2 separate regions of the Homo sapiens genome follow, and region 1 is reported to be linked to region 2. Evidence: microRNA targets listed by miRTarBase, many of them from high-throughput screens and not tested one by one. Region 2 holds a microRNA gene; the other region holds the end of a gene's coding sequence.

The links. The annotated mature microRNA hsa-miR-551b-3p reads GCGACCCAUACUUGGUUUCAG and lies in region 2 at 1,494-1,514, shown strand. An mRNA with a match to its seed (bases 2 to 7 or 8) in the 3' UTR can be bound and repressed. Matches are read on the target gene's strand: a 7mer-m8 pairs with bases 2 to 8, a 7mer-A1 pairs with bases 2 to 7 and ends in A, and an 8mer does both.
Region 1: miRTarBase lists ANKRD50 as a target of hsa-miR-551b-3p. Seed matches in the 3' UTR shown: 7mer-m8 at 3,445-3,451.

Annotation. Positions count from the first base shown.
Region 1 is chr4:124,665,550-124,669,616 of GRCh38, reverse strand. It overlaps ANKRD50 (ankyrin repeat domain containing 50), which reads left to right. Exons shown (of 5, transcript NM_020337.3): 4 at 1-633; 5 at 2,103-4,067. The coding sequence ends at 630. Among named protein-coding and RNA genes, the nearest start is that of ANKRD50, 45 kb to the left of the region's middle.
Region 2 is chr3:168,550,421-168,554,489 of GRCh38, forward strand. It overlaps MIR551B (microRNA 551b), which reads left to right and starts at 1,434; the gene lies at 1,434-1,529. It also overlaps the pseudogene EGFEM1P.

The sequences.
Region 1 (4,067 bases), not on the chromosome of region 2:
CATTCATTGCCACGCAGTAGAAGTCGACAGTCAATTGTTTCCCCATCTTCCACAACACAGTCCTTAGGACAGAGTCATAATTCACCAAGTAGTGAATTTGAGTGGAGTCAAGTAAAGCCCAGTTTGAAGTCAACTAAAGCAAGTAAAGGGGGGAAATCAGAAAATTCTGCCAAGTCTGGATCAGCTGGGAAAAAAGCGAAACAAAGTAATTCTTCACAGCCAAAGGTTTTAGAATATGAAATGACTCAGTTTGATAGAAGAGGACCTATAGCCAAATCCGGGACTGCTGCACCACCTAAACAAATGCCAGCAGAATCTCAATGCAAAATTATGATACCTTCAGCTCAGCAGGAAATTGGTCGATCTCAACAGCAGTTTCTTATTCACCAACAAAGTGGGGAACAGAAGAAGAGAAATGGAATAATGACAAATCCAAATTATCATCTTCAGAGCAACCAGGTTTTTCTTGGTAGGGTTTCAGTCCCACGAACAATGCAAGATAGAGGGCATCAGGAAGTGTTGGAGGGATACCCTTCCTCAGAGACAGAATTAAGCCTTAAACAAGCTCTGAAGCTTCAGATTGAAGGTTCTGACCCTAGCTTCAACTATAAAAAGGAAACACCATTATAAAAGGTAATATTTTGTCAACATAAAGAGTAAAAAACAAAAGTAGAGTTCCCTCTACTTGGAATGCTCTTTTCCTTGATCACAAGGCCAATTCCCTCAGTTAATCTCTACTCAGATGTCATCTGGGCCAGACCTGCCTCATCACCCCTTTACATCAGAATTCTCCTGCCTCTAGCACTCCTTTCCCCCTTGCGTGCATTATGTTATCCAAAGCACTTACTATTTAAAATACTTCAGATGTTTTCTTTATTATTTTTCTCCTCTGAACTAAAAATACAACCTTTGTGAGGGTAGGGTTTTCTATCTGTTCACTACTGTATTTCATGTACTTGGAATAGTGCTTGGACCTATGGTAGTTTCCCAGTAAAAATTTGTTGAATAAGTGAATGAACTAATGAATGAATGAATGAATATACTACTTATGGATCCCAGATTAAGAATTCTTTCCTATTCAGTTATGTCCTCCTTTTAAAAGAATTTTGATGGTGTCAGAGGGAGGGGCTGTTTCAAACTCATCTTTTTGGTTTGAATGCAATAATGTCTGTAGCACATAGTAGATAGTAAATATTAATTTCATTCCTTTTCACTCAGAAAGAAGTCAAAAACTTAGTAGAAGGTAGTTTTTATGATGACAGATCTCTTGAGACTCTTCTAAGTAATGTTTTCACACATAAGGCATAGACGTGAAAAATGATAAATGGATGTTTTTGCAATATTGGTATTTAGGGCACTTTATACCTGGATAAAATAGTCATATTTGTTAAATAAATTTTTTTTTCTCCTTCCTGTAACAAAGGATACTTCATTAATAATATAGGGGATGTTAGTGGGAAAATAGGTATGTAAGTTTTATATTTTAGATACTTTTTCAGAAGCTCATTTCCTGTATTGGAGATAAATCTGAAGATTTTATTAGGGGTCTTTCCTAGCATACACTGCAGCTATATTTATCCCACTTTGCTTAATGATTTTTCTTCCTCTAACAAAGTTATATATACTCTTTCCTTTTTGCTGCTTCTGTCTTTGTAAATATATTTTAGGGATATAATAGGTGAAACACTATTATAGATAAATTCCTCATATATTCTAATAATAAACAGCCTTCAATGTGAATCTAGGGGTGACCAAATGTCATTCAAAAATAATTTGAATAAAGTACTTAATTCAGTCCCCAAATGCAATTCGTTTTTAAAATAATTAGTTCTGATGGTGCACCCTTTCAACTCTCATGATATCTGTTTTAAAGGCAAAATATAAATACGTATTAAAAATGAAACACCAGAATTAAGGTAAACATTTTGTGGAATTTAAAAAGTGGCTTATAAGTTAAATAATAGTTAAGTCTGCTTTGTGCTTTGCATGGTAAATATATAGATAAAGATATATAGAGGTAAATGTATTAAATAAAGTTTTAAAATGATATGTAGCTGTATAATACAATGTAGAAAATAATTTTTTTTTAACTTTTGCATTAGTTTCCTATTCTGTGAAACAGAAGACATTGTGATGGAGTGGTTCTTCAGCTACTGGATGGAAACATATGCCTGTTGATTTGCTGAAAAAACAAAAAAAATGAAGAATGTGATCTCTGCAGTACAGTTACCTTAATTACTGTAATGTGCCTAAATAGTAAGGCTGCCTTCTCAATGTAACCCTCTGTGCTTAAAAAATTTCATTTTGTGTGCTTTGTATTCACTACACAGGAATAAGCACTTTTTAAAAATGCAGATACATACTGCAGTTCCCTGATAAAAGCTGAAAAGAAAATTTGAGTATTTTAAGTTAAGATGTGATAAAAAATGTGCATGTGCCATAATCAAATATATATGAAAAGGCAGTGTTCCTTGTATTTATTTTTTTTTCTTTTTGTGGCAAAAGAAACTTAAACATACTGTTTCAGTCACATTGCATTGTAGTGTATGGCCTGTTTCTTGTATCTTTAAAGACGTTGCTCAATAAAACAAATCTTGCAACTGTTCTATGTTCACTACACCTTCAGCATTGGATAAAAATCATTTTCTATATAAATATCACATTGAAATGAAAAAATGATTTCTTGGCAGTTTAAAAAAAATATTTTATAGTAGTTTAGGGAGCTGCTTTAAGTAGTTTAAATCTGGATTTTCCCAGTAGAATTCTTCTCATCTCTGGCTAAACATGTCAGAACAAACAACCAACCAGTCTGTAGGCAGAACAAAGTCCTATTTCATCCGCTGGGATACAATTTCATCTTCCATTCACTTTGTCATTCCACCTCTAAGAAGACAGACTATCATTCCTGAGGCATGAAAATTCTCAGGGACAAAGCCATGCCTCAGTCACATGTGTGTGCAGAGAGAAATGCACCTGTCTATCTAAGGGTAGATTTTTGATCCCTGAATAATTCATTGACTAAACTGACCTCTTCCTCCTGGCTAAATAAATTAATTTTGCTGGCTTCTCTCTCAGCGGTTTCTATTTTGTAAATTGCTGCATGACCAAAATAGCCCCACTCAAAATCAATTGGATTAATTTTAATGGTTTGGTTGGATGAATATTCTGGATGAATATAAAATGTGCTGCCCTTCACAGATGACACCACTCCCCTGTCAATCATAGCACATGTGTACTTTTTATTGTTACTTAATAGTGATGGATTTGCACTTTTCTATCCTCATACTCTTTCCTGTTTTCTTCTTTGTACAATTGCATGCAGGAGGGCTGGATGCCAGGGTTAAGAGAGAAATTCATGACAAGGAAGGTAAAATTGGTTCAAATGAGCATGTGTCCCACAGCCTTAGTCTCCTTACTCTTAAATCAGTGGAGCTGTAGCTTAGATGGGTCGTTTATATGTCTGGAAAAGTTGTCATAACAGTTTAGAAGCCAAGGTTGTGGATTTGATCTTAGAATGGGCCTGTTAATCTTATAGAACCCAGAAATTCTGTTCTTTTCATGTACTGTTGATGAGGAATGAGGAAAGAGAATTTGGAGATTCAGCACAAAACCATTGCTACTTCTAGAACAAAATCTTTAGAATATGTCCTAATAACAAAGGTCAGTAATGTCATCTTCATATATGAAGGACACATGTGATACATTGTTCGTGGAAATAGAAATGTATAATTATGATAAATGTTTCACTTGAATCTTATTGTAAGGCTTTTCTTGCTTTTATTTTTTAAAGTCAGCAAAACTCATTTTGTCTGTCATCTATAAGTCATAGTGAGGACTACGAGATAAGTTGATAAGTTCAATTGATATTAAGGTGACATGGCAATATTAATAACTCAAATGTGAATGTTTCAAGTATTGAATTCTTGTCCCTATGGGACATTTATTAAATAAAATTAATGGGACTCTTGCAAAGTAGCCTTAAAAGTGTTAATGAGTCTATTAATAAATATGAACACATACTATTATTAGAACCAACTTTACTCATATCTCAAATACAGTACATTTAC
Region 2 (4,069 bases):
TGTGGCCCATGCCCTTTGAGCAAATGCTACCTTGATGTAAAACTTTCCACAAAGAAGTTAATGTTGGTAAAGTGCCACTCGGAAATTAAAGCACAGTGCTTTGAAGAGTTAAATCCAATGACCTTGTAAAGAACTGGAAATTGTTAACAATGGTGCTGTCTGTCAAGGCTGGCATACTAGAGAGGCTCCGTGTGGACACCAAGATCTGAGCTCGTGAGGTAGGTGGGAGGGGGAGGCATGGTGATTATGGTAAATAGGGGGGCCCAGACAAGATGAGTCTTTCTGTCTCAGGAAGGAAAAAAAGATCACTGAAGAGTAAAGCTAGGGTACAGAATGGCAACACCAAGTTTAAGTGTTGATGCAAGGGTTGATGGCAATGAGATGAAGCTGAGCAGGGAACCAGGTAGAAATGGAACTGAACAGGTGCAGGGAGGCAATGGAGCAAAGAGGTTTCTGGGCCACTCTCAGGATCAGTCATGAAATGTCCTTAGCTTCTCATTTTTGTTGGAGGATATGTGGAGGCATAGAGCTTGGTCACATTGAGCTGACGCAAGTCACTGATTCCTGCAACCTCTAGTGATGCATTTCCAAACTCAGGTTAAAATGAAGGTCAAGAACTCCTGTTTTGCCATTTCTAAATTATTGGGATTAGGCTATGAGCTTATTTCGAGGTATTTTTCAGTTCTGCTATGCTATGACTCTGATTTTGTTTTTATTTGGTAATCTTATATGGACAATAATTGCATTTTGCAAATTTAAAAGTATCATGCCAACATGGTTTGTCTGTTACTTAGCTTTCATTTTTCTTTTAATGTTGGAAAATTGTGATACAAATTTATAGATCCTAAATTAACAAATTACTCAAGACTTTAGAATTTCTTAAAATGTTATGGTATGCTTTTTTTTTGAAAGCTCTACATTTTATAAAACCAAATTTGTCATACGAAGTTTTAGGTATCAAGAAAGAATTCTGTGGATTTTTGTGTTGTCAGGGTATCTTAGATTGTAATTTTATGTATTTTCCTTTTGGTACCTCATAAAAACTAGAAGGGCTTTCTTGAACTGCATACTTTGTCAATACAATTTGATGATGGAGAAAGACATTTAAGTCCAGAACGATTGGTGTAAAGTACACTGGGTGAGACTGTATAGTTGAATTTTCCAGATGATCGAAAATTGACAGTAAAGAAATATATACAAAATAGATTTTGAAAGAATTGTTGAATGTTTACCTGTCGCTACATATTATCTTGGATACAGTACAGATAATCCGAATGGAAAATTGCACTGAAAATGTCTTCCCCTGAGTTATATTTGCTGGTTCTTACATAAAATGTTATTTATACAACAGATTTTATTGTATCTTCTCTTGCTTTACTCCTTTATCACCTTCTAGCTAACTGTCCTGACTTCAGACCTCTGTTAGATCTGCCAGATGTGCTCTCCTGGCCCATGAAATCAAGCGTGGGTGAGACCTGGTGCAGAACGGGAAGGCGACCCATACTTGGTTTCAGAGGCTGTGAGAATAACTGCAATTTAGAGGGAATACCATTTATGTTTATGCAGGACTTCCAGAGAAAAAACAAAATTTATTATAGACATAAAGAATAAGAGATGAAATTCATGATTATATTGCATTTCTGTTCCAATGGGATTAAAAAAAAAAAAACACGTATTCTAAGTAAGTTGAACCAGGTTGACAGCTAATGATTTGATGTCTCTGTTAATGATTTTAAAACATTGTACAAATCCAAAACTGTTTACTCCTTCAAGGTATACCTCCTTTTCTCCCACTTCTCCAGCTATTGTGGTCCATTTGCCCTTGCTCTGGGCTAGTTCCTTGGTAACTAACAGAAATGGATGGACAGAGATGCCATGACAGGAGTATGGATTTTGCTGGGTCCTCATTTATGCTGGGGCATCTATCAACTCTTTTTCCAACATATTTTTGTTTCCCACACAGCCCCACTCACAGATGCTTGCCTATAGGGCCAAAAATCTCTAGTTAGCAATCTGCCAGAGTCCTGCTTTTTTGTGTAGGAGATTGGAGTTCTTTCAAATAACCCATCTGGTAAGATGTAGAGAAGTAGAGAAACTGAGGTAAATAAAATGTATATTGTTAAGTACTTTATTGCATACTTTGTACCTTTGCTGATAATTAATTTATAGACTATATCTGTTGAGCTGGTGTTGGTTAAGGTTGTATTTGCTTGTTTGTTTGTTCTATACTCTTTAAAAACTTTTGTGGGTGGGTAGGGAGGGTATAATGGTGTTGATGTATGTTGTCATCCCTTAGGCCAGAGGAACCATTTCACAATTACTTTTTATTTTCTCAACAAGAATTCTGAAGGCCTGTATCTTTGGCACAGAAAATTAAGCTATAAAGGCAAGTTCTGCCAAGTATATATTACATATCTCCTGGCCATGGATTTTGGTAGGCTGTGAGAAAAATATGAAAGTCATTTCCAAAGATTTATTTTGTATTTCCTTAATTGACTTTCATATTTGTAATACATTTTCTATTTATAAATGGTATTTCTTTGTTCCACTTAAGGTACCTTAATTTATAAACACACAAAATTAATCAAGGACATTTCCCCATTTTGTTAGGTTCTGAGAAGAATAAACCAAATTCTTCGCCAAGGCTTTTCCTTTTTTGGAAAATGCATTGGATAAACATGGTTTTCTTTGAATTATCTCAATGAAAGAGCTTCTCCCTGGACATTCTAAAGAAGTGCTGTCTGGTAGATTTTTCTGTGTTGACAGAAATGACCTACAATCTGCACTAATTTGACAGACATTAGCCACAAGGCACTTGAAAAATGGCCAATGAACTAAATTTTTAAATTTATATAGCAGCGTGTGATCAGTGGCTACTATATTGTAGAGCATAGTTCTAGAGTACTTTAGTTATTTAGATAATTTTTTATAGATTACAAGTTTACCAAATTCATCTTTATCAATTCTCTTATGAATTTGCTAGGTTTTGGTTAGTAGCTTAAGTTTATGTATTTTAGAGCAGTTTTAATACATCACCATGTGTTTTGACTTAGTACTTTTAGGCTGCTACTAAACCAAACACAATACCATAAATTGGATAGCTTATATAATTTTTTTCTCACAACTCTGGAGGCTGGGATTTCTAAGAACAAGGCACCAGCAGATTCATTGTTCAATGAGGGCCTGTTTCATGGTTCCTAGATAATATCTTCTCACTTTGTCCTTACGTGATAGAGAGGGCAAGCAACTCCTTCAGGCCTCTTTTATAGTGGCACTAATTCCATTCTTGAGGTGTCTGTGCCCGTGACTTAATCACCTCCCAAAGGCCTCCCCTCCTAATGCCATCAACTTGGAGGTTAGGATTTCAATATACAAATTTTGGGGGCAACACAAACATTCAAACCATAGCATTCTTATACAATAAACTACTCACAAAATAGAGAGTTAACTAAAACAATTCTCCAAGTTTTAAACAATTTATATGGTTGCCACTTTATTTTCTATGAAAACAAATTAAATTTCTGCTGAAAGCTAAAAGCTGGCCAATTACCAAGTGATCCCACAGTTATTGAGTGTTACTACTTGGACAGCATTAAATAAACCATTCTTTAAGTTACAGAAAAGATTTGAGGTGATTCCTCTCTTCAGCCATCCTACAGTCTTGATAGAAAGGCAAAACTGGCAGTTATGAAATAATTAAAAATAAATCAGTGCTAAACTCTATTATGTAAAATAGGAGTATAGATGAGGGAGAGATCAGTGTGGATCATAGTAGCCAATCTCTGCACTTTAAAGTTAAAAGGACCCTTAGAAATCATTCATTTGGAGTTTTAGAAATCATGAAATTGTATTTTATCAGGTTTACACACTCAAGATTTCACAGCCAGCTAATGACATGTCCAGTGCTTGAATAAAGGTCTCTTAACCCTCAATTTCGTGATCACTTTTTACTAGTTAGCCTTATACCTCCTCCTGGAGGAGTTTGTCCTTAACAATTCATTAAAAGATAGCTTGGGGTCAGCAATTATAGACCGAGTTCTATTGCAAATATCAGTTTCATCTAGCAGAG